3 separate regions of the Homo sapiens genome follow, and all the other regions are reported to be linked to region 1. Evidence: microRNA targets listed by miRTarBase, many of them from high-throughput screens and not tested one by one. Region 1 holds a microRNA gene; each other region holds the end of a gene's coding sequence. Distances are between the middles of the regions.

Region 1 (8,264 bases):
GGTCTCAAACTCCCAACCTCAGGTGATCTGCCCACCTCGGGCTCCCAAAGTGCTTGGATTACAGGCATGAGCCACTGTGACCAGCCTCTTTTTTTTTTTTTTTTTGAAACAGTGTCTCACTCTGTCACCCCAGCTGGTGTGCAGCAGTGCATTCACCGCCAACTGCGGTCTCGACCTCCCAGGGCTCAAATAATCCTCCCACTTCAGCCCCCCAAGTAGCTGGGACCACAGGTATGCGTCACCACACCCAGCTAATTTTTATATTTTTGTAGAGACGGGGCTTTCACTGTGTTTCCCAGGCTGGTCTCCTAGGGTCAAGTGATCCACTTGCCTTGGCCTCCCAAAGTGTTGGGATTGCAGGCGTGAGTCACCATGCCCAGCTCCCAGACATGCAATATTTGTTGTTGTTGTTGTTGTTGTTGTTGTTGTTGTTGTTTGAGACGGAGTCTCACTCTGTCTCCCAGGCTGGAGTGCAGTGGCGCAATCTCGGCTCACTGCAACCTCCACTCCCGGGTTCACGCCTTTCTCCTGCCTCAGCCTCCTGAGTAGCTGGGACTACAGGCGCCTGCCACCACGCCTGGCTAATTTTTTTTTTGTATTTTTAGTAGAGACGGGGTTTCACCAAACATGCAATATTAATGCTTTATCATCATGTTCCGAAAGCAGAGCTCTACTGGGGGCGGAGTGAGTGACGCTGTCTGCCCCAGGTACACGCAACAGGAGGGCACTTCTATTGCTTCATCTGGAGAGAATTCCAAATAACAATAAAGCCAGCTAAATGTCCCTTCCCTTTTAATGATCACCATGTCCCCCCGTTCTAAAAATTGCCAATGATAAAATACTCCTTCCCCCAATCGTTGGTCTAAGATCTAAGCAATTGCTACAGTTGCTGTTGAAATGTATCTGTGAACTTCAAATTAGCATCTTTTTATAATGTATCCTTTAGTGAATACCATATTCTGTATGAACATTAACTTGGGGAAGCCTGTTATAGTTACATGTGGTTCTCAGGCATGAGTGGGCTTAGCTACAGCCTTTTGACTGGAGTGAAGTCTGCAGGGTCCGGAATGGCCTGGTCTCCATGCCCTGTGATCACCATTCCTGCTATTACACGGTAGATTTGAAACAGACATGAGGGCACAGTAACTATAAAGACAAAGTGAACTCGTGTTCCTTCAGTGCTGTCATTCTAGGTAGCCACTCGGAGTTTTCATCTGTGTTTAAAATTTGAAACGGCAGTGGATGTGAACTACAAGGTGGAATTTTTTTTTTTTTTTTTTTTTTTTAGTAAATGCAGATATGCAGATTTCAATGCTTACATGAACTATTTTATTGGATTTGGATAATACCTTTAAAATTGACATTCATTCTTTCAAAATATTTGGTTTTAAAACTGATGCACAAATCAATAAAATGATGGTTATTACATGACTGTTAATGAAAATAATTTTGCCATACAGAGGAAGGGCATGTGCCTGTAGTTCCAGCTTCTCAGGAGGCTGAGGCAGGAGGGTTGCTTGAGTTCAGGAGTTGTAGGCTACAGTGAGCTACGGCTGGGCCAGTGCACTCCAGTGTGTGTAACAGAGACCCTGTCTCAATAGATAGATTAGATAGATAGATAAATCATGGATAGATAGATAGATTACATATAAATAGATTAGATAGATTAGATAGATTAGATTAGATTAGATTGGATTAGATTAGATTAGAGGGATAGCTGGATGGGTGAATGGATAGATAGATGGAGTATATAGATATGGATGGATGGATGGACAGATTAGGTAGGTAGGTAGATAGATTAGATAGATATGGATAGATGGATATGGATAGATAGGATAGATTAGATAGATGGATTGATAGATAAGATGGATGGATGGATGAATGGATGGATCTATAGGTAGATGGATAGATGGCTAGATGGAGGAATTTCTGTGTACTGTTCACATGTTCTTTAGTCTGTTCAAAAATGTACTTTGCATTGGGATGCTGCCCCCAGCCTGCCTACATCATGCCTTTTTCCTGATGACACGTGTTCCTGTCACTGACGCCCGGGAGCTGTTTTTGAGGGCAGCTTGCCCAGCGTGCTAGTGACAGGAGGCTGGTGCTAGGAATGAAGGTTATTTGGTCTTCTCACTGGCATCACTGTTTGGTATTCTAATCCCATGAGATCGTTGTAAACAATAGCAAAGTTGTTCATGAACTGGCAAAAAAAAAAAAAATGGTAAATGGAGGAAGCAATGGCTGGCTGTGAGCAGGGGACGCACTCAATGTCCTTTGCAGAGTGAGCAGGGTGGATTAAGTGGTTGCTGCGGGCTCTGGCCTGTGCTGCCATCTTTGCAGTGACCCTGAAGAAGAGAACTGCCCCAGATGGGACTGTGGAACGTCTCTCCTGAAGAAGCCCCGAAAGGGTGTGTGGCAGCCGCTCCTCCTTCATGGGACCACTGCTAGAAGGTTAGGGATCCCAACTGCCTCACCTCTGGGCAGCCCCTCCTCCTCCACGGAACTGCTGTTGGAAGGTTAGGGATCCTGCCTGCCTCCCCTCTGCTGTTTCCCATTTCCTGTTTGCCTATTGAAAGTGTCTGGGGCCGTTGGGCCCTCCTGTCTCATGAATGGGTGTGATTCCTGGAAGCCCTGCAAGTCTCGACCTTGTCAGCTCTCACCTGCCCTCCTCTTCCTCATGGGTTTTGTCAGAGGATGTTAATGCCTTCCAAGCAAATTGTATCAAATGCATTTGAAAGGCAAAACTCATTGTTTAGTGTCTGAGAATAGCCTCTGAGTGCTGGGATGCCACGGTTGCTGTGGCAACGGCTCTTTGTTTTAGGGAACCACAAACATATCATTCTATAAACTGCAGGGCCCAAGCTGCAGGTTTCACCTTCCTGAGGGTCGCCACCCGGGAGGCAGAGGCACCAGGATGGACGTGGGAACTACCTCCGCTCTTCCTTTCTCACAGGTGCCCAGGATGTCTTTAGCTTTTGTAATGTTTGGGGCTGGGGGAGGTGGAGGTCATGAGTGTGGGGAGAGGGCAGACAGTGGATATGTGCTCCTCCTGCCCCGAGGAGCTGGGCTCTACAGGGCATCGTGGGGTCCCTTCCTCTTAGCAATCAATGCCATGTTCCACTGTGGCCCCAGACTCCAGCACCAAGCAAAGCAGCCCCCACGACCCTTAGGACAATGAGGGGTGAAAATTGCCACCCATCAGTTTTCAAGTGGTCAGTGTGGAGGAAAACAGGGACCCGCAGGTGGCCAGAACGTGGAGGAGATACACCAGGGAGCCGGAAGTAATGTGGTCCAGGGACCCATCTCTCATTCCACGTAGCTCACGGACCTGTGTGCCCCTGACTCTGGTCTGTGGGGGGCCCCTCTGTATGGGGGCCCCCTATTCCCTCCATCTGAGGGTCTCTCTTCCCTCCATCCAGCCACTTGGTCGTTTGCACCCACTGTGTCCACCAAGCGCTTCTAGGGAAGGGTCTTGTCCTTTTTTCTCCCCGTCCCGCCGAGCCTCCACCTCCAAGCCTGCATCCTACTTGTCTTTCCTCTTCATGCGTGTGGGGTTTTTTTCCCCTCCTTTCCACTGTGCACCCCGTCTCCTCTGTAAACTTGAAGGTAGGGAACTCTGTCTTCACTCATGAGTACCTTCCAACACGAGCTCTCAGGAGTAAAGACAGAGTTCCCTACCTTCAATGTGGATCTGCAAAAAGATCTGAAAAGCGAATGCCTTCTCCGTAGCTCGTTGGCAGTAGTACTTGACCTGAACTGATTTGAGGCTATTTATAGTTTTTATTTATCCTACTTAGCATGATTATTCATCCGTGCCCTGAAGGACTCCTCCCGCAATTGGCAATGGGACACTGCCCAGACCCACTGGCGGTGTGACGTAACAGGCCACACACGCATCATCCTACTGCTGCAGAAGCAGGCAGCGTGCACATGCCAAGGCACCTCTGGCTCTGGTGTTCAGGGATGTCGTCGTGGGGCTGTATTTGTTGAATGAACAAGAGTTCTTAATCCAAGAATAATGCTGGGTTTACCTTTCAAGTAGTTCAAAGGCTTCTTTCAAGACGGTGTTGTTATGGAGGATGGGATGCGTCTTGCCTTAAATATTAATAGAAATCGTATATGGAAATCTCAGACGGCTTCAAAGAGTCTCTCAGTCAAATTCAGATGGGGACTGTGCCTCTTTCCTGGCTGTCCCCTCCCAGCCCCCATGTGGCCACAGTTTGCTGTAAAACCCTGCAGGGCCCCTGAGTACCAGGTGTGTCTGGCCCGTGTTGCCTTTCAACATGAACTCTTTCTTGACTTTCTTCTCCATCAGGGATATGGTCATATTTATAATATTTGTCTCGACCTCACTTTCCTTTCTCTCCCTGCCCTGCTTGTTCAGCAAATGTGTTGGGGAATCCGCAGGGTCCCAGGCACAGCCTCTCCCTCCAGGGGCTCACAGGCTCCATGGCACACAGATGTGGCCTCAGCACGTGAAGGAGGCTCAGTGCCAGGCTATGTGGCTCATCTCAGAAGGTGGTGTGGCCCCAGGTTCTGTGGTTGCCCTTGCTCTGCTCTCTGCTCCCCACCCCCGCCCATCCTGCCCTGCTCCTATGGTGCCAGTGATCTTCGGGGCTGGTGGCTTGCAGAGCGCTCCCTGGACCTCCTCTTGGACCCTCAGACTCATCTCCTGCAGAGCCTGCCACCAGGCGAGCCCAGACCCCTGACTCCCCTTTGAAGTGTGTCCCTGCAAATGCATATGTTGAAGTATCACCCTGAGGATCTCAGAGTGTGACCTTGTTTAGAGGTAGGGTCTTTACAGAAGTCATCAGCTGAAAATGAGGTCATTAGATTGGGCCCTAATCCAGTAGGACTGATATTCTTATAAAAAGAGGAAATGGGACCGGGTGCAGTGGCTCATGCTTATAATCCCAGCACTTTGGGAGGCTGAGGCGGATGGATCACCTGAAGTCAGGAGTTCGAGACCAGCCTGGCCAACATGGTGAAACCCCGTCTCTACTAAAAATACAAAGATTAGCCGGGCGTGGTGGCGGGTGCCTGTAGTCCCAGCTACTTGGGTGGCTGAGGCAGGAGAATCACTTGAATCTGTGTGGGCGGAGGCTGCAGTGAGCCGAGATCGTGCCACTGCACTCCAGCCTGGGCGACACAGCAAGACTCCATCTCAAATAAATAAATGAATGAATGAATGAATGAAATGTGGCCACAGCCATGCACTCGGAGCAAACCTCACACAAAGATGAAGGCAGAGCTCTGGGTGATGCTTCTGTCAGTCAAGGAATGCCAAAGATTGCCTACAGGCCACTGGGAGCTGGAGAGACAGGCCTGGAACAGAGTCTCCCTGCAGTCCCCAGTGTGAACCCCCCCACTGCCAACACCTTGACCTCAGACTTCCAACCTCCAGAACCATGAGACAATTCATCCCTGTGGTTTCAGTCACCCAGGCTGTGGTTACAGGAGCTCCAGTGAACATACCCCATCTTTCCTGGCCAGCTGGCCCTTCCTCCTGGGCACCCCATCTCAGTTATGGCCCAGGAACTGAAAACCCAAAAACCTTCCTAGATCTTTCCTGGCGCTCACCTGCCCTTTTCCCATCTGTCCAGAACCAGCCCCTTCCACTTTTTCTATTTCCTGAATCTGCCCCTCCCTCCCCACTGGTTGGGCTCTCATTTTGGCCCAGATGGACTGCAGGAGGGGACGGCTCTGGGTCTCACCCCGGGTTCATTTCTCTCAGTCCCCTGGAACGAAGTGGAGCACACTCTGCCTGGGTGAGCCTCCAGCACTCAGATTCTGCTGCTGTGCTCATCCTCAAACCTCTTCCATAGTGCCCTGGGCCACACTCTCTTTATAAGGACACTAATTATTGGATTTAGGACCCTCCCTAATCCAGTATTACCTCGTCGCAACCTCACTGATCACATCTGCAAGGAGGCAATGACCCATTTCCAGTTAAGGCCCCATTCGTAGGTTCTGGGTGGACATGGATTTGGGGGGACACTCTTGTGGACTTTTGTGAGGGTTTCTGGGTGTGTGAGAAGGCAGAGCCTGGGGAGCTTCAGGCAGAGGGGAGGCATTCACATAATTGGTGGTGAGGTCCCTGCACTGACCCAGCGGCGACTGAGCACCCAGTGCGGCAGTAAGTGACCACAGTGTCAGTTCTCATCCCATCTTCCAACAACACCACCATGGACTCCCCGTCGAGCCCCCTGTCTGGGGGAGGACAATCAAGGAGATGATGGGGACATGCCAAGATGACACGGTGGTCACCGAGCCCAGGGTGCCCAACCCAAGGAAGTATCTGCTGGTTATCAGGTTTCTAGCCCAGGACACAGAGCAGACAGAGTGCTGTGGACGGTCAGGAGCTCCATACCCGAGCCTGGCTTGGTGGAGAGGCCATAGGCAGCAAGGTGGGACAGACAGCCTGCCATGAACCAACTGGTCTGCACAACTTTGCCGTGAAATATGAAAGCCTCCTACAGCACAGGCTGAGATTGGAAGCATTAATCACTCTGGTATGGGATGTGTGGAGTTCTGTTGGTCCCAGTGGGTTTAATAACGTGCCGATCGGTGCATCCCAAGCATTCTGTGGCCTGTGGACCGATACATTGTCCTCCCTCTGAAACCTGCTGGTCTGGAGGCCTCTAGGACAGATTGTCGGGATCTATGGTGTATGAGTTTGCTCCAGCTGCCGTCATAAAGCACCACAGACAGGGAGGCTTACACAAGTCATTTATCGTCTCACCGTTTTGGAGGCTGGAAGGCTGAGATCAAGGGGTCTCTGGACTGGTTCCTCCGGAGACCTCTCTCCTTGGCTTGTAGACTTTGCCTTCTCCCTGTATCCTCATGGGGTCATCCCTCTGTATGTCTGTGTCCTGATCTCTTCTTGTAAGGACGCCAGTTGGATTGGATTTAGGACCTGCCCCATCTGGCCTCACTTTAATTTAGTTGCCTCTTTAAAGCCCATCTCCCTATACAGTCGCACACATGCTGATATCCTGGGGGTGAAGCCTGCGTCACATGAATTTTGCAGGTGACACAGTTCAGCCTCTAGCACTCAGCGCCCACCTGGATGTGGCTTCTAACTGCAGGACGCCCTCCCCCAACATCCTCTGGACTTTGGCACCCTGGGTGAGAATTGGGCAGGTTTGTGGAAGAGAATGGGTGAGGATGAGGAGGCCGCATGTTGTGTCCAAACAGGGCTTTCCGTGCCAGAGCCCTTTCCCGGATGGGACTTAGGACTGGCCGTGGCAGCTCCAGTGACTGTGCTCCCTGTGTGGGTGGGGCCCTGGGCTGCCCCCGTGGGGTGTGAGGCTGACTGTGTAAGATGTGGACATGGCCCAGCTCAGTCCATAGGCTGAGCCTGGACTCTGGAACCCACCTTCTTGGCTTGTGTCTTGACTCTGCCCTTCACAGGCTGTGTGACTTTGGACAAGTTACTTAACCTCTCTGTGCCACAGTTGCCTCCTCTGTATCACAGGGATAAATAATAGTCAATAGCCTCGTGCCCAGCTAGTAGCAGTGGTGGTAGAGGGACTCTTGACTGTTGTCATTGTTTATTATAGTATTATTTCCATTTTACACATGGAGAAACCGAGGCCTGGGAGTTTATCCAGCTTGACCAGGCTTATCATAGCAGGCACAGGTTATGACCCTGGGGTTGTCCAAGAGCAGATCACACCGCCCCATGTCCGTGGACAGGTGTCCGTATGCCGACCCCCTCAGCCTCTGTGTCTATGCGACCCACCTTCTTCACCTGCACCCTCTGGGCCAAGCCATTGAAAGTGAGAACGAGGGAGTCTTCCTCGAGAAAAGAAACTCTTCATTAGGCTTCATATTTGTGTCTTCAATTATGCTGTCAAATGCTAAGGAGTTTAGACACTTACTGCCAGCGCCGGGCCCTTGGTGACGGCGTACATTATTTGCATAATCAGCACGGGTGGACCCGCTGGTAATTCCACCCAATTATTTGCCCAGAATTGACACTGATCAATTTAGAGGGAGGCACAGTCAGTGATGGAATTAAGTGGTAGCAAACACACTGTCAGTACATGAAGTCCAGACAGAGGCAAACAGCCCAGAGATGGATGGGCGGGAGGCGGGGGCCGGCCGGTGCAGGAGCAGTGGAGGCGGTGGACCTGGGTCCTGTGTGCTGAACGCTGAAATGCTTCCTTGGAAACTTCACAGAGAGTCCTAGGCAATAAAGGTCAGCAGTGGAATATTGTCACAGAATAATGACTCTGTGCCGCTGGGTAAATGTTAAAGCT
Region 2 (8,264 bases), 12 Mb from region 1:
TTAGAGATATAATGGTGACAAGATCAACAATATCTAGTTTCTCTCAGAGCTAATGTTCCTGTAAGGGGAGACAGCCCACAAAGATGATTTTAAATAAAGGTAAATGCCATAAAGACGGTGAAAGAAGATGATGTGACAAGGAGGGACTGAAGAGATGCCTCTCTGATAAGATGATATTTGAGTGATTCTTGCATCACATGAAGAGGACAACTATATCAGGCTCTGGGACAGAACTATCCAAGCCAAGGGAATACTTAGTACAAAGGCACTGAGGAGCAATAGCCCCTAACACTTATTAAATGTTTACTATGAACCAGACACAATGCCAAAACACTTCCTCTGCATTATCTCATTTATTTCTTACAACTACCCTTTGAATTAGGTAACAGTAATCATCCTATTTTGAATATGAGGACACTGAGATTGAAAGGGCCTCCTCTCAGTCTCCAGTGTAGCTTTCAGGGCTCAACCTGCAACAGTGAATTCCTGATTTTATCTCTCCAGGCTTTCATGAGAAGGACAAGAAGCCATATTGCCGAAAGGATTTCTTAGCCATGTTCTCACCCAAGTGTGGTGGCTGCAATCGCCCAGTGTTGGAAAACTACCTTTCAGCCATGGACACTGTCTGGCACCCAGAGTGCTTTGTTTGTGGGGTCTGTATAATCACTTTTCTTTCGGACTTAGGGAAAGTCAAGGGTTCTCCTCTCTGAGAGGAAGAGCTGCAGTTAGTGAAAGGGTTCACAGTCCTGAATGAGGAATGGATGTGCGCATCCTAAAGGAGAAACGAGATACAGATCCATTTGCTTGTCTGTTTTGCAAGCGGGAAATCTAGTCTCCATTTGTCAAGAACCTGAGGGAAATTCCTGTAGCTGGCAGGTAACTGTCAGGAATTTCAAGGCTGAAAATTTTACTTTGCTGACATTTTACCTCTTGACATTTGCATTCTTTTTCTCTCTCTTCTCTCTACCCCAGGACTGCTTCACCAGTTTTTCTACTGGCTCCTTCTTTGAACTGGATGGACGTCCATTCTGTGAGCTCCATTACCATCACCGCCGGGGAACGCTCTGCCATGGGTGTGGGCAGCCCATCACTGGCCGTTGTATCAGTGCCATGGGGTACAAGTTCCATCCTGAGCACTTTGTGTGTGCTTTCTGCCTGACACAGTTGTCGAAGGGCATTTTCAGGGAGCAGAATGACAAGACCTATTGTCAACCTTGCTTCAATAAGCTCTTCCCACTGTAATGCCAACTGATCCATAGCCTCTTCAGATTCCTTATAAAATTTAAACCAAGAGAGGAGAGGAAAGGGTAAATTTTCTGTTACTGACCTTCTGCTTAATAGTCTTATAGAAAAAGGAAAGGTGATGAGCAAATAAAGGAACTTCTAGACTTTACATGACTAGGCTGATAATCTTATTTTTTAGGCTTCTATACAGTTAATTCTATAAATTCTCTTTCTCCCTCTCTTCTCCAATCAAGCACTTGGAGTTAGATCTAGGTCCTTCTATCTCGTCCCTCTACAGATGTATTTTCCACTTGCATAATTCATGCCAACACTGGTTTTCTTAGGTTTCTCCATTTTCACCTCTAGTGATGGCCCTACTCATATCTTCTCTAATTTGGTCCTGATACTTGTTTCTTTTCACGTTTTCCCATTTCCCTGTGGCTCACTGTCTTACAATCACTGCTGTGGAATCATGATACCACTTTTAGCTCTTTGCATCTTCCTTCAGTGTATTTTTGTTTTTCAAGAGGAAGTAGATTTTAACTGGACAACTTTGAGTACTGACATCATTGATAAATAAACTGGCTTGTGGTTTCAATAACTCATTGTCATATTTGTTTGGGAGATAAACTTTCTGCTTCCCGTGTTATATACTAGGCACTATGTACAATTAAGATTATATCATACCTCGTTTCCTTCCATCCAATGCACACTTTAAAATTTTTAATCAGAAGAAATTAAAAGGAGGGTCTCCTTTTCACTAATTTTTCTTTTTTTTCTTTTTAGTTTGGTCCCATAACCATTTTATTTTCTAGACTTAGATGATTGAATCATTTTTAAAAATGACAAAGCTTCTTAAAATTGTTTTTATTACTTTGTTTACAGGAGGAGAAACCCTGGCTCTCCATTAGAAACCTTACAAATTCATTTCTTTTTCCTTTTTTTTTTTTTCTGAGATGGAGTTTCGCTCTTGTTGCCCAGGTTGGAGTGGAATGGCGCGATCTCGGCTGACCGCAACCTCCACCTCCTGGGTTCAAGCAATTCTCCTGCCTCAGCCTCCTGAGTAGCTGGAATTACAGGCATGCGCCACCACACCAGGCTAATTTTTCTATTTTTAGTAGAGATGGGGTTTCTCCACGTTGGTCAGGCTGGTCTCAAACTCCCGACCTCAGGTGATCCACCCACCTCGACCTCCCAAAGTGTTGGGATTACAGGCGTGAGCCACTGCGCCCAGCCACAAATTCATTTCTAAAGTAAAAAATGAAACACAATTTCACATTTGCCTCCTGAAGACAAATGAGATGGCTGTTCTTAGAGCATCTCTGAAGAAAGATGCTATAAATAAAGCTCAAATGATTATTATCTAGAATTAGGAAAGCCAAGACTCAAAGAAAAATTCCTCTTAATCATTTGTTCATCTCAAAATATTATAAGTAAATGTTTAGAAAAGCTTGTCAGGTTATCAGAGAATCTGATTTTCTTATGTCCTGTCAGTTTACTGTCCTACAGTTTACTTTTTATAAAAGTAAGCTTCACAAGGACTAATCTTTCTGCAAAAGGGATATTGAGAAGATCAGTACAATATCTTTCTTCCCGTGGTCTTAAAAATAATTGTGTGATTATTTGTTATAACAAAAACCAGACTCTTAGAATCCTTGATTCTGAGATAAGTTACTGGCGAAAACTCCTTCACTGGAGGTATTTTTAAAAATAGGACAAAATTTGATGTCTTTAGATTGATAGAGGAATAGTACTACTTGGGAGAGCTGAAATGGATTAAATGTTTCTTGCCAAACTTTATTATATCTATGTCCTTTGTTGGAATGGATAATAAGGGGGTTGTGAGAGTTACAAGGAATTGGCAACAGTTAATTCTATAAAATAGGAACTCCAAATGCATGTAAGATATGTGGGAGGCCACACAGATACGGAACCATCTGGCCTCTATCCTGTTTGGCTGTCTGAGAGCGCCAGACTATGCAGAACACACATTCAACTTTTAAACATCCTCTTTGCAATGTCTTCACTCAACGATGTCACACGCAGGTGTTAATATGGCAATGTTCTTGGTTGCCTTGGCAATTTGACAAAATAAACTTGGAGTTTTAGCCCTTAAAAAGAAATGTACAGGTGCTAAAACTTTTTTAAAAAGGATTAGCTATTTTGAGATTCAATAGAATTTAACTATTTTTAAATGTCAAAGAAAATCCAGAGTTCACTAAGATGTAATTAAGAAGTGAAAACACTTTCTTCCCACATTGAACGGAAGTGGTTTTATTTGCTCAAAAAGAGATACTGACTTCAGGACCAGTGTTTTAGCAATAAGGAAACTACTCACAAGTAAAAAGTTCTGCTTTTTAAAAACCCTGGAAATGCCATTACTAAAATTGATCACGTACTTATTTACTTTTGGTTTTGAGTAACTTCTAGGATGTTTAAAAAATAAAACCCACCCTCACAGGACAGGGATTTTCCACCAGTGAATATAAACATATAGAAAGGAATATGCTCTAGAGTTGGCACTGTATTCTCAAAGGGGAGTCCCTCAATTAGTTTGGTCAGTTTTTCTTTGAAGTAAATTTAGTCTCTTCCAAGGTAATACTTTGATAAAGACAACAATTATTTTTCCATCCAAGTTCTATCACACACTCTTCTTGGAGTTGTAGGATGGCTGCCAGCGCATGCTTCTTGTTTCATAACCAGTAGGGGGAGCAAGAGTGCTTTTATCGAGCATTTGCAAGCAAAAGTTCTGGGATTCATCCTCACTGGTCTAGCCTAGGTCACATACCAGTAATTTTTGCTGGGGGAATGGATTCTGCAGCTTGGCTTAAACCAAACTGAATTATTTCCAAAGTTACAAGCAGGACTAAGTTTCCCGAAAGCACAAGGGCTTTGTGGAGGAGATGTGAATACTTTAAAAGCTGGATATTGGTAAGAAGCGGGAAGAGGACAATGAATCTTGAATTCGTGTGTTCAAAAGTGAAAATATTGGAGTTTCTGAGTTTCAAGGTAATGTAGAAGGTAAGCAAGCAGGCATTGTCAGTATCCTGAGGGATCATGTCCAAGAACTTTACAGAACCCAAAGGCAGAGGAGAGAGCCAGGAATGCTGGTGTCCTGAGGAACATGCGGCAGTGGCACTGCTCTTCCTGGGCCCCTAGGGGCGCACCACTGAGAAGCATCAAAAGCACCTTCAGTTTGGCAGTCTGGAAAAGGAGATCTTGCAGCTGAAATCAAGGTGAGAAAGAGTAGCAGCTTCCTTTAGAGGCGAGTGTCTTAGGCATAAGCACGTCCTCAATAAGGCAGTGGTGGCAGCCACTGAAATATGACACTGAAAAAGAGATTGCCTGTCCCCAAAATATTGTGGAGGTTGTGTTACTAGGTACCATCAGTGCAGCACATTAAGTGCTGGGAACACAGAGCTCAGTGGGGAAATGGAAATCTCTTGGGATCCACAGGATAAAAAAGAAAGAAATCTCAGGTAAAAGCTGGTGCTTGGGTTGTACTTGTTGCAAATTTATAACTTTGCCAGAAGGCAGTGTTGTCTCAAATTTATAAGAAAGGAGACAGTTTATGTAGGACATTCCCCTACCTTAGATATAGTCAGCGTATAGTGCCTAAATTGATTTTCCGTGGGGAGAAGTCTCCTAACTGTGTTTAGGTTCATAGACCATGGATTACGGACAATTGCATAAACTTCCTGGCACCCTGTTGAGAGCCATCCATCTTCCCTTCCTATTTTGGATATCATTAAATCACAATAAATACTGTATTATGGGAATAACATTTTTCCTGGGATAAGTACCTCCATTCTAGCGAGAGATATCTCAGATCACAGGTGTTACTGGAAAAACTCCTAAAGCTGAAAATGAACAGACCAAGGAATCAAAGAAGGCTTTACTTTCTCTAAACTTTAACTTAGAGAATTTGATTTTGGATTTTAATGTTTTTGGACTTTGATATGCTATGTTGAATAATATTATTGGATATAATTGAGGATGGGACGTGAAATGAAAGGGGAGTGAATTTCTGAGCTGTTTTTCCCCACAGTCTAGTTTCTCCACAAAGAACTGCATCTCCCATTCTTGGTCCATGTGTTTAGGCAAGGCTGACTTTAACCTCAGCCTCAGAAATAGGTACAGTCCCAGGTCTGACCAATAAAAGTACTTTGTTCTTCTGAAGGAAGGTGATTGGATCAGGGATAGACATGTGACCTCAGCAAAGCCAATGACCTTTACTAGATTTATTCAGAAAGAACATTCCCATTCGTTGGAATTCTAGTTGTGCGGATAATAAAAACCCATTGCTGCTGATAAATATTTTTATCATCACTTGGGGGAGGCTGTCTGAGAAAGAGGCCAGCACAGTGGAACGTAGAACCAAGTAATGGAGAGGCTGTGTTTTCTTTTTTTGAGCCACTCAGTTCTACCATAGCAGCATCTTAACCATAGACTAGGAAATTATGTGAGCAAATAAATTCTCTTTTTTGTTTACATTGAACAAATAAACTCAGTGTTGGTACAGAACGTATATTGTATATCGTCATGAAAAACTAATACACAAAAATAGTGTTTGATCACTTCTTGATGCTTTTTACACCAGAGCACAGTGAAACTCTGTAGTTTAAGGTTAAGTCATCCTGTGGATAGCTCGCATATTTAGAGTACAAGCTTCTTGCTCCTGTCCAATTTTGCAGTATCTGTCACTATTACAAAGGGGAAGAAAAAGGTTGTGAGGGTGTTGTCATCCTCTAAGATTTAAAATTGTTTTGGAAATGATGGTATTCATGCTACTTTGTTTAATTATAATCCAGAGAGAACTATTACGTATTTGATATTACTGCAATACTCTTTATAGTGAAAACTAGTTTTAAAACATCCTGATACCCCACTAGCAAACAAAAAAGGAAGAAAAATTAGACGATTATAAGAGAAATCAATTTACATTTATCCTGTGTCTTAGTCTGCGCAGTTGCCAAAACAAAATACCATAAATGGGGTGTCTTAAGCCACAGAAATTTATTTTCTCATAGATCTGGAGATGAGAAGTCTCAGATTAAGGTCTGCAGGTTTGAATTCTGTTGAGGGCTCTTTTCTTGGCTTGCATATAGCTGCCTTCTTGCTTTGTCCTCACAGGGTGAAAAGAGGGAGAGAGAGAGAGACCACAAGAGATCTGGTGTCTCTTCTTGTAAGGAAACCAATCTTATCAGATCAGGGCCCAACCCTTATGATTTCGTTTAATCTTAATTACTTCTTTACTTAAAATACAGCCACATTGGGGGTTAGGCCTTCAACATATTTTGGAACGACACATTCAGTCCATTACATCCTGAAAGGTGCTACTTAAAGAAAATTGGGTTTATATGAAGTTAAGGAGGAAAAAGAAGACATTTATAGTGATTCTGAGAGGGGACCTTAGGGACACTTTTCAATGCTTTGGAAGTTTGAAGTGGTTATTTTCATTATGTTCAATAACACTTAGAAAATAGGACTTTCTGTCTCTAGGTGCTCTTGCATTTTCAGACATGAGTTAGAAAATATTGGAGGCTCAAAAATAAAATGAAGAACTTGGAGATTTTCCTAAGATAATCTGAAAATTTTGAAATGGAGGAAAAGTAGGACGGAAGAAAGTTACAGGATATATAAGATAATTTTTGAGTTGGGCAAGGTGAAATTTTCAGAGCTTTCAGTAAAGGAGGCAAGATGGGCCGTATAACACACTATCTGAGGAAAAGAAAGACAGAGTGGGGGGAATTGTCACTCAGTTCCCTTACACAAACTACCTGGTGAAGCTACTACTTACCCTAGATTGTCTCACAATTTGGGGTTTTTCTAGAAGTGGATGCTGAGACTAGGACTTGTGTATAGTAGTCTATTTAGGAGGCAATCTCTAGATGTACAGCTAGAAGAGCCAAAAGTGAGATATTTTCTATATTCTACAGGGATTACGCCTGTAATCCCAGCACTTAGGGAGGCCGAGGTGGGCAGATCACGAGGTCAGGAGATCGAGACCATCTTGACCAACACAGTGAAACCCCGTCTCTACTAAAATACAAAAAATTAGCCGGGTGTGGTGGTGTGCAGCCTGTAGTCCCAGCTACTCAGGAGGCTGAGGCAGAGGAATCGCTTGAACCCGGGAGGAGGAGGTTGCAGTGAGCCAAGATAGCGCCACTGCACTCCAGCCTGGGCATCAGAGTGAGACTCCGTCTAAAAAAAAAAAAAACCCAAAAAAACAAACAAACAAAAAAGAAAAGGCAAGGAAGCCAAATCAGTGTGCATTAATGAGCAGATTACTGTCTTGGGAAGTTGGAACTCAATACTCAGAGGACCTCTGGGATTCATTGTAGAGTACAAGAGGTGGTCCACCAACCCTTACACCCCACTTTGTCTTCCTTGTACTCAAGCTGCATGTACTCTGAGGCCAAAGAAAGCCCTTTTTCTAAATCACAGGCACTTTGAGTAGGAGCAGCAGTGTGTACCTAGCAGTAAGTGCCAACAGATAGGGGTGGGGAACTAATGCCATTTGTTGGGTAAAGTTATCGAGGGGTAAGGTTAAAAGGAAGAAAATCATACCAAAGGACTTCACATTACCGGTAATCACAAGACCGAATTTGTGGTAAGCCATGCATTTGCAAAGTTTTATAATATTCCCAGCTCTATGAAGCTTAATGTATTTCATCTAAGGTAGTATTAGTAGAGGGGATGACAGAAGGGAGAAAGTGGGCAAGGATTATTATTTCCATTTACCTGTGGAAGAAGCAGTTGATTACATGAATAGGTCAAGGTGACTTGATTTAGAAACAGAACTAAAGTTTGTTAATTCCTTGTCTGGGATGCTTTCTTTTAGGCTGTATATCAACAATGTAAAGTGCCCATGAGGTGAATTTTCAAGGGACAAGCAAGGGCACTAGGGCATCAAAGTGATCTGCTCTAGGCTACACTGTTTTGGTTATAGTGGCAAGAATAGCAGCCATGGCTTCAGGCAAACCAAAATTTAAAAGTTGAGTTTACCACTTGCAAACTGTAAGTGAATTTACCGCTTG
Region 3 (8,264 bases), not on the chromosome of region 1:
TTTCACTTGTTCAAAGAAGAAACAGACGGCAGGTCCTTTAACTTTCAACAGGCCCCATCTTCTTGACCTCTGTCTGGATCTAGCCCCTGGGAAGTAGATGACGGAGGGAGACTAATTCATTCAGCATCAAGTAACTATTTTGTGCCAAGTACTGTTCTTAATCCTTGACTTTATACCTACCCTGCTTCCTGTCACGGGCTTTGCAGCCCTTGCCTTTGCCACAAACAACTTACCAAGTGCCCCCAACTCTTCCAGAATCAACATTTCTAAGGTAAAAATGCATTTGCCTTTGTTTTTCACAAAATGCATTTTCAGGTGTTAGTGTTTTGGGGCAGTTATAATGGATCACCTGGTGGGGGTCTAGTATCTATGCACATTAACCTTCTTACGGAAATTGAATGTCCATTTTCCTGGAACTTACCTGAATACAAACACCCATACAGCACGTGAAAATCACTGTTCCCAGAGGCATAAACACCGTACTGCAAAGGACAGAGTATAACCACCTGCACATTAAGTCTTCACAGAATATAAATTTTCTAAGCCTTACAGCAAAGGAAACAGCCTAAGTGTGGAGTTCCAGATGTGGGCAGGAAACAGCAGAGTTTTATGCTGCTATAGACCAGGGGTGTCCAATCTTTTGTCTTCCCACATTAGAATCGTCTTGGGCTACACATTAAATACATTAACAGTAATGACAGCTGATGAGCTAAAAAAAAAAAATCACAAAAAAAATCTCACAATGTTTTAAGAAAGTTTATGAATTTGTGTTGGGCTGCATTCAAAGCCCTCCTGGGCCACAGGCTGCGAGTTAGACAAGCTTGCTATAGACCCTCATGTGTGTTGGTAGGCAGTAAGGGGCAGGAATTGTTCTTGGAAATGATCCAAAGTAGCCGTAAGACAAGAAATATTAACACATCGTGTTTCCAGCCTTTTCTTTTTCCCACTGCCCCATAAAGATTTTAGCTCTACCTACTCCGTTTTTTGCCTCCCCCATCCTTAGGAAAATACTGCAGAATAAAGAGAAAAAGGGAAGAAGGCTCAGGGATCGGCTATCAGTGCTTTTTAAGGAGGCAAGGGCAGGAGAAATAAATATTTACTTAAGCATGTTCATTATAAGGTTATTTACGAAAGTGAAAAAATGCAAACAACCTAGATGTCCCATCATAGATTTTTAAAAAATATATCTATCCTGAAGAATATTATGCAGACATAAATCGATGTTCACAGTATACTTATGAAAAAGCATGGGTCATAAAACAGTATGTACTTAAAATTCCATTTTCTTGAGGGAAATTTTTGCATGTGTCTGTAAGCCTATTTATGCAAGAACCTATCTTTGGAACAGTAGACAGGGAAGTTATAATAGTGATTATCTCTGGGTGGTAGGGTTAGAGATGCTTTTATTTTTCCTTGATTTACCTGGCTCATGTATTAACTGTAAAGTTAACAGGCAGCAACCTTTGTTTTCCTCTGTTTTTTTTTTGTTTGTTTGAGACAGTCTCACTCTTGTAGCCCAGGCTGGAGTGCAATGGCGTGATCTCGGCTCACTGCAACCTCTGCCTCCCGGGTTCAAGTGATTATCCTGCCCCGAGTAACTAACTGGGATTACAGGCACCCGCCACCATCCCCGGCTTTGTATTTTTAGTAGAAACGGGGTTTCACCATGTTGGCCACGCTGGTCTCGAACTCCTGACCTCAGGTGATCCACACCCTTCACACCCCCCCCCAACCCTTGGCCTCCCAAAGTGCTGGGATTACAGGTGTGAGCCACCGCACCTGGCCTGTCTTCTTTAAGCATGTGGAATATTTGGGCTGACTTCCTCTAGTGTTCTCCCACTCCTCCTCTCCACACTTGCAGATGAAGAAACTGACCCATCTATTCAGGCCTACCATCTTAGAGATTACCGGCTGTTTCACCTCTTCTAGTATCCAGTGGTATGAAGCAGTTAAACCAGGGATCTTGTAACTAACTGTTCCACCAAAGACAACTGGGATAAAACTCAGCCTCTCAGGGCTCTGAGATCTTGTTGCTCAATGTTGGTGCTATTATAGCCTCATCTTGCTGAGTTAACATTTATACTAAATTGCCTGAAATCAAATAGCAGAGATCTTATCTTTACTTTATTGCAATGACCTTCTTAGTTGACCCTTAATTTCAGCCCAGGTCCTCATGGTCCAACTAAAATCACATCAAATAAGTGAAACTGGATTTTCCTTTAGATTTTGTGGAAGCTGTCCTACCTAGAGAGCTCGAAGTGTATCTGCTTCTTCCATAGTATAGTTAAGGTGTGAGGCATAAAGCGGTATATTAAATGGCATTTCCGTTCACTCAGTTGGTATTTATGAGCACCTACTACCTAGATGGTGAAGAAATGTGTTAGCCTGGCTGCCTGCTTCCCATTAACTGAGGTCACAGGTGATGCGGCTGGTCATCTCTATCGCCGTAGAAAAGGCATGTGCCTAGTAAGCAAACACAATGATGTCCACAGGCACTGCCATCAACGAGCTTCTAATCTGTACAGGGCTAAACAAGTATATAAAGTCATTCTTATACAAGGCATGATTTAAGTACCATAAAAGAAGTATAAAAACAACACACAAACTGACATTTTTATTTCTCTGGCAACAGATGTACTACTCCAGTGGAGAGACCAACAGGGACATTGTGAAGGCAGTGGCAGCTGACCAGGACCCTTTGTAGGTTGTGATTTTATATTTCAAGATTAGTCAAACTTCTCCCAGATGCCTAGTATTTTGCAGATTACTTTGAAGGGGTCTTGCAGATAAAGCTGAGAGAAGAGAGAAAGAGATCCCCCCCCGTATTGTTCTATATTGTTTTATGCTCAGTACCTGTTTTAAGAAACAAGGAAGCAAAACCAAAGGCAGGCAGCCGGGTGCCAGGCACCAGACCCAAAACCAGGCCTGGGCCTGCCTGACCTTAGCCTGATAGTTAAAATTCAACCCATGACCTAGCAACCGATGTTATCCGTAGATTCCAGACATTGTATGGAAGGACATTGTGAAACTTCTCGTTCTGTTGTTTCACTCTGATTACCGGTGCATGCAGCCCCTGTCACATACCCCCTAGATTGCTCAATCGATCACGGCCCTGTCATGTAAAATCTTTAGTGTTGTGAGCCCTTAAAAGGGACAGAAATTGTGCACTCAACAAACTCGGATTTTAAGACACTAGACTGTCGATGCTTCCAACTGATTAAAAGCTACTTCCTTCACTATCTTGGTGTCTGTGGGGTTTTGTCCACGGCTCATCCTGCTACAAGGCTACTAATCTTCACGCAGCACATCCCCACATTTAAAACTTCAGTTAGGGTGGTCCTCATATTGACTCTAAGTGCCTCCTAATACAAATCTGTTTCCCTTTTCAGTCCCTAGAAGAAACATAATAGAGTGGGTCCAGTCCGTATTTCAGGCATGCCTACCACTTCAAAGCCTCTAGAAAATTCCATGCTTACATCAAATTTTTATTGAGCACCAAAAAGGCACAAGATACACAAGAGCAGATGAAATGGGTGCTGACATTAAGAGACCTAAATCTTTGAGGGAAATAAAATCAGTAAAAATAATCACAGAATAATATGTGAAAGGCCTTAAATGTGGTATCAAACACCAAGGGGCCAAAGAAGGTTTCAGTATCAGGGACTCGTGGAAGATTCCCAAAAGAGAACGGAGTGGCCACATGGAGGGACATATTCCAAGCAGAAAGAACAGTATCGGATGAAAAGAATGGGGCATATGGAGTGATAAACTAGTCTAGGTACTGGACTAATTAGGAAAAAACATGAAATCCAGCCTACAAAAAGACTTTGTTTCTCATTAAATTTCATAATATAAGAAGAATGAAATTTAGCTGTATTTATTAAAAATGTCCTTTTAAAAAGCTTAGAAAATGTTATCTGTCAAATTTTAGGGATTTTCTTCTATTGCTATTTTGAGAAGGTATCTTAATGTTAAGATGTTCAGATTTCTATTAAGAACAAATGACCTCATCCCGCTTCACATTCTACCTCCCAGAGACACATTTTTACAGGCTACCAATTAGTTTATTCTCTGAAAAAGGAATAGAGATTAAGTCCTTAAAATTAGTATTAATTGAATATAAGTGTAAAATCACCAAATTTCCTATTTTTAACTTTCTAAGACAGTAATAAAGTTTTAAAGTACATTATTCCTGGCTGGGTGTGGTGGCTCACGTCTGTAATCCCAGCACTTTGGGAAGCTGAGGCGGGCAGATCACCTGAGATGAGGAGTTTGAGACTCGCCTGGCCAACATGGCGAAACCCAGTCTCTACAAAAATATAAAAATTAGCCGGGTGTGGTGGCACACACCCATAATCCCAGCTACCAGGGAGGCTGAGGCACAAGAATCACTTGAACCCAGGAGGCAGAGGTTGCGGTGAGCAGAGATCCCACCACTGCATTCCAGCCTGTCCAACAAAGCAAGACTCTGTCTCAAAATAAATAAGTACATTATTCCTGATTATAACTATTTCCTCAATTCTAAGATTTTTTTTTTTTTTGCATTTCAGTATTTCTGAAATCAGATGATCTAAAAATTAATTAATGAAGTATTATTTCTCTTCTCCCCCTGAAAAGCTATGATAAAATCAATGATGTATTTTATAATTGATGGTATCTTAACATTAAGGCAATATAGTGATGAGAATAACTGTTGGCCTTCAGAACTCAATTTTTCAGTAGTCATAGTCCCTCAGGTGTCTTAGTTTCAGAGGAGATTTCAATAGATTTTATCATGGAATGGTGAACACCATAAAGTCAGGCAATGTCCCTATCCTTGCTTGAATCAGAGAGGGGAACTCTCACAACGGTTTTACAAACTTCATATCTCACCCAGTCACCTCCAAATGTGCCCCTCCTATCATAGCCCTCCATGTAACAAAAGGGAGAAGAGCTTTCTGATGCTTATGAAGTCCAGGGGTATAACTCATCTTTTGACATCAACTGATGTACACCACTGCCACACTGATCTGGGCCACACTTGAGCATTCTACACCAGGCATCAGTCCTAACTTACCTGGAATTTAAATACCAGATAGAGTGCAGTTCCTCCACCCTTACTTACAGGGCTCTGCCTAACCCCAAACAAAGATGCCTTCAAATCTGCTCTACAGCAGTTGTTTGGAAACAAGAGAAAAGTCATTATGCAAATATAAGTCATTCAAAACAATTCAGTCTTAAGGAGACAATAACTAGCACAGAAACGGGGAGATGAACTGTTTGTTCTGGGAGTTCAAATTACTGCCTTCAATGCTTTGTTATCAGGCCAAAAGGTAATTACCATTAGACCCAGTAACAATCTTCATTGTTAACCTAACACACCAATGACAGAGGAGAACTGAGAGCCAAGCACTTGGGTCTCATTTAATTTAATCACAAAACAAACCTCAGGTATAGCTGTTATTCTCCCCATTATAATAATGATAATAATGAAGAAACCGGGGCTTTTAGAGAGTGACCTGGCCAAGATCATACAGCCAGGAAATATTAAGGGTAGGAATGAGGAGTTTAGTTTGGGCGTTTAATTACCAAACTATCCTGGCTTCTGCTACGAACTACTTTTACAAAGACAGAATCTTACTGCATAGGTTAAACGACACTGGAATGACAGAGCAAGTCGTAGTTCTAAACATCTCACTCATTCAACAAGCATTTAAGTGATTCTAGACCGTCAGAGGACAACTGCAAAAAGTACTTGAAGAATAAATATTTAATAATAATGTAATTATAATTATAATCTGTATATCTAAACAGTGCCTTTGTAAAAACCCTTTCCATCATCTTCAAATTCAGTCTAAAAATAATTGTACGCTATACTTTTCAAGTGGGGTTTAAACTATTGTTTCATATTTAACATAAAATATTTTCCTATTTAAATTAACATACTTTTATGTTCACGGTAAACAAACTGCATAGGTTTTCACTTTCATTTTCTTCTGACATCTTCTGCAAAAGAATGGTCTGCCCATTTTTTGGATAAAAAGGCTAGAATAATGTGACCGGAGCTGGGTGAGGTGGCTCATGCCTGTAATCCCAGCACTTTGGGAGGCCAAGGCAGGCAAATCACTTGAGGCCAGGAGTTCGAGACCAGCCTGGCCAACATGGTGAAACCCCGTCTCTACTAAAAATACAAAAATTAGCCAGTCGTGGTGGCATGTGCCTATAATTCCAGCTACTCAGGAGGCTAAGGCAGGAGAATTGCTTGAACCCGGGAGGCAGAGGTTGCAGTGAGCTGAGGTTGTGCCATTGCACTCTAGCCTGGGAGACAGAGCAAGACTCCATCTCAAAAAAAATGAAAACATAAAAATAGAACAATGTGACTGGGAGAGACTTAAAGTGAGGAAAAATGAATGCTGAAAGAACTAGTAAACTGGCTGAAGATGGAACAACTCCCCATGTCTCCAGAGAGGCAGATAAGGGACTGTAAACCAGCAAATGCCACCTGCCTGTTATCTAGCTCAGAAAGGTGCACACCTCTGGAAGCAGCTGAATTTAAGTCCAGTGTGGCACTTTCAGAAAATGGCATCAAAGGTTGGACCATAAATCTTTCTTATTCTCCAGTCACTGGACATTTAAGAGCCAAGATATTGATGGGCTCTTTCCCTCCTTTTCTTTCTCCTTGTAGCAGATGTATGATTCATGGATTGTCCTTTCGTGGTCTCCATTTTCATCTTATTACTTTTTCTTTGCTTCTGCTTTCTGACAGCTCTGGAAAACAAGGTGCTAAATTATTTCACAGAATGAGCACAGTGAATTATGTAATTATGTTGAAGTTTAATTAACTAGCTAACCAAATAAGAAAATAGAAGAAGGGAAAGAATCTACTGTATTGCAAGCATAAATCCTCAGTCTCCTAACCATAACAACAAGGGAAGAGTCAGAGGCCTAACCAAGCAAAATGTTTGAGAAAAAAAAATTCTTTAAAAGATGGTTACTATGGATTTAGAACAAGCTGTCCGGGGCAAACACACCACAGAGGTAAATGCAAAGCTAGTGAGATTGGACTTTTTAAAAAAGTTTTTTGTACATCTGTATTGCTCAACTCAGCACTTCAATCTCCAAATCCTTGAATTCCGTTTTTTTTGGAGAGGAGCTGATACATGGGGCAGTCAGCAGAGACAGAAAAATGAAACAGCACAATGGAAAAAACCGAGAAGCCTTGAAAGGGCCTGTTTCCTAAGTCGTACAGATTTTCCTTTCCTCAGCGGATCTAAAAGTCCTGACAAGTGCCACGCAGGGTTATCAGCATTTTGTGGTCCTTATCTTGAAGATTAGCTTCAAAATAAACAAGCTGGAACTCACCCTCTGAAAACACTGAACCACACCAGACAAAACAGATTCTTTGTTTCTGGTGTTCTCCACACTAAGTTACAGGCGACCTGCAGCTGAGAAAATGACTGGCCCATCCATTCACTTCTCCAAGCTAGCAGAATCATGCCATGACACTCAACATATTGAGAACCAAGGAAGGGGCCAGAGCTACAACAATGCCAAACCAGGACTCCTCCCCTGATTACCCAGCAATATCAATTGTTAGGTTCACCTCTCATAAGCTTCTCCATAGGAAAAGCTTATTCTTGATCTTGTCAGGAATAAACCTGGGAAAAGAGCTTCATAAACAATGTATCCCCTAATGGGTTCAATTTATGCCTCACTTTTTGTTTACTCAGCATATGTTACCTGTTGAGAAAACAAAAATGAATGGGCATAATCTTTGACTTCAAGGAGCTGGGAGACAGAGATAAGGGGGATAGTCACCCCCTCTCTATCCCTACTTTTTTAGGTGAAAATGCTATGAAATCAATGAACACCCCATGAGGAACTTGCAGAACCAGCTTGATTCCAGGATCTGTGCTCTACTATATACTCTACTTTAAATTATTTATATATGCAAACTGCTAACCATATAATAATCACTCAATAAGTATTAGCTATTATTAGTTCCACATGACTATTATGCAGAATTTTGCTTGACAACTTTAAATTTTTTCATATTTAGATTTTGCACTATGGACTAGGGATACCTTATCAGTTCAAAATAGAACAGTCTACAGAAGGAGTAGGATTGAAAACTAAAACCAAAAAAGTCATCTTTACAGTATTATACTGATTCATGCATACTATATAAATCTATTTCCCCACTTTTTTAAAGTAGGATAATTTCTTGATAAGTGATGATTTAGCAAACTTAATGAAATATAGTATAATCTCTAATGGCAAAGTCA

What was found. The annotated mature microRNA hsa-miR-3664-3p reads UCUCAGGAGUAAAGACAGAGUU and lies in region 1 at 3,651-3,672, shown strand. An mRNA with a match to its seed (bases 2 to 7 or 8) in the 3' UTR can be bound and repressed. Matches are read on the target gene's strand: a 7mer-m8 pairs with bases 2 to 8, a 7mer-A1 pairs with bases 2 to 7 and ends in A, and an 8mer does both.
Region 2: miRTarBase lists LPXN as a target of hsa-miR-3664-3p. The part of its 3' UTR that is shown has no 7-base or 8-base seed match.
Region 3: the mRNA of ZCCHC4 is a reported target of hsa-miR-3664-3p. Seed matches in the 3' UTR shown: 7mer-m8 at 6,215-6,221.

The regions. Positions count from the first base shown.
Region 1 is chr11:70,867,697-70,875,960 of GRCh38, reverse strand. It overlaps MIR3664 (microRNA 3664), which reads left to right and starts at 3,593; the gene lies at 3,593-3,691. The region is part of intron 11 of SHANK2 (SH3 and multiple ankyrin repeat domains 2); the gene reads left to right.
Region 2 is chr11:58,520,432-58,528,695 of GRCh38, reverse strand. LPXN (leupaxin) reads left to right here. Exons shown (of 9, transcript NM_004811.3): 8 at 505-653; 9 at 973-1,825. The coding sequence ends at 1,242. Among named protein-coding and RNA genes, the nearest start is that of OR5B21, 16 kb to the right of the region's middle. RefSeq lists a silencer at 3,806-4,100.
Region 3 is chr4:25,367,512-25,375,775 of GRCh38, reverse strand. ZCCHC4 (zinc finger CCHC-type containing 4) reads right to left here. Exons shown (of 13, transcript NM_024936.3): 13 at 5,393-6,747. The coding sequence ends at 6,612. Among named protein-coding and RNA genes, the nearest start is that of ANAPC4, 5.6 kb to the left of the region's middle.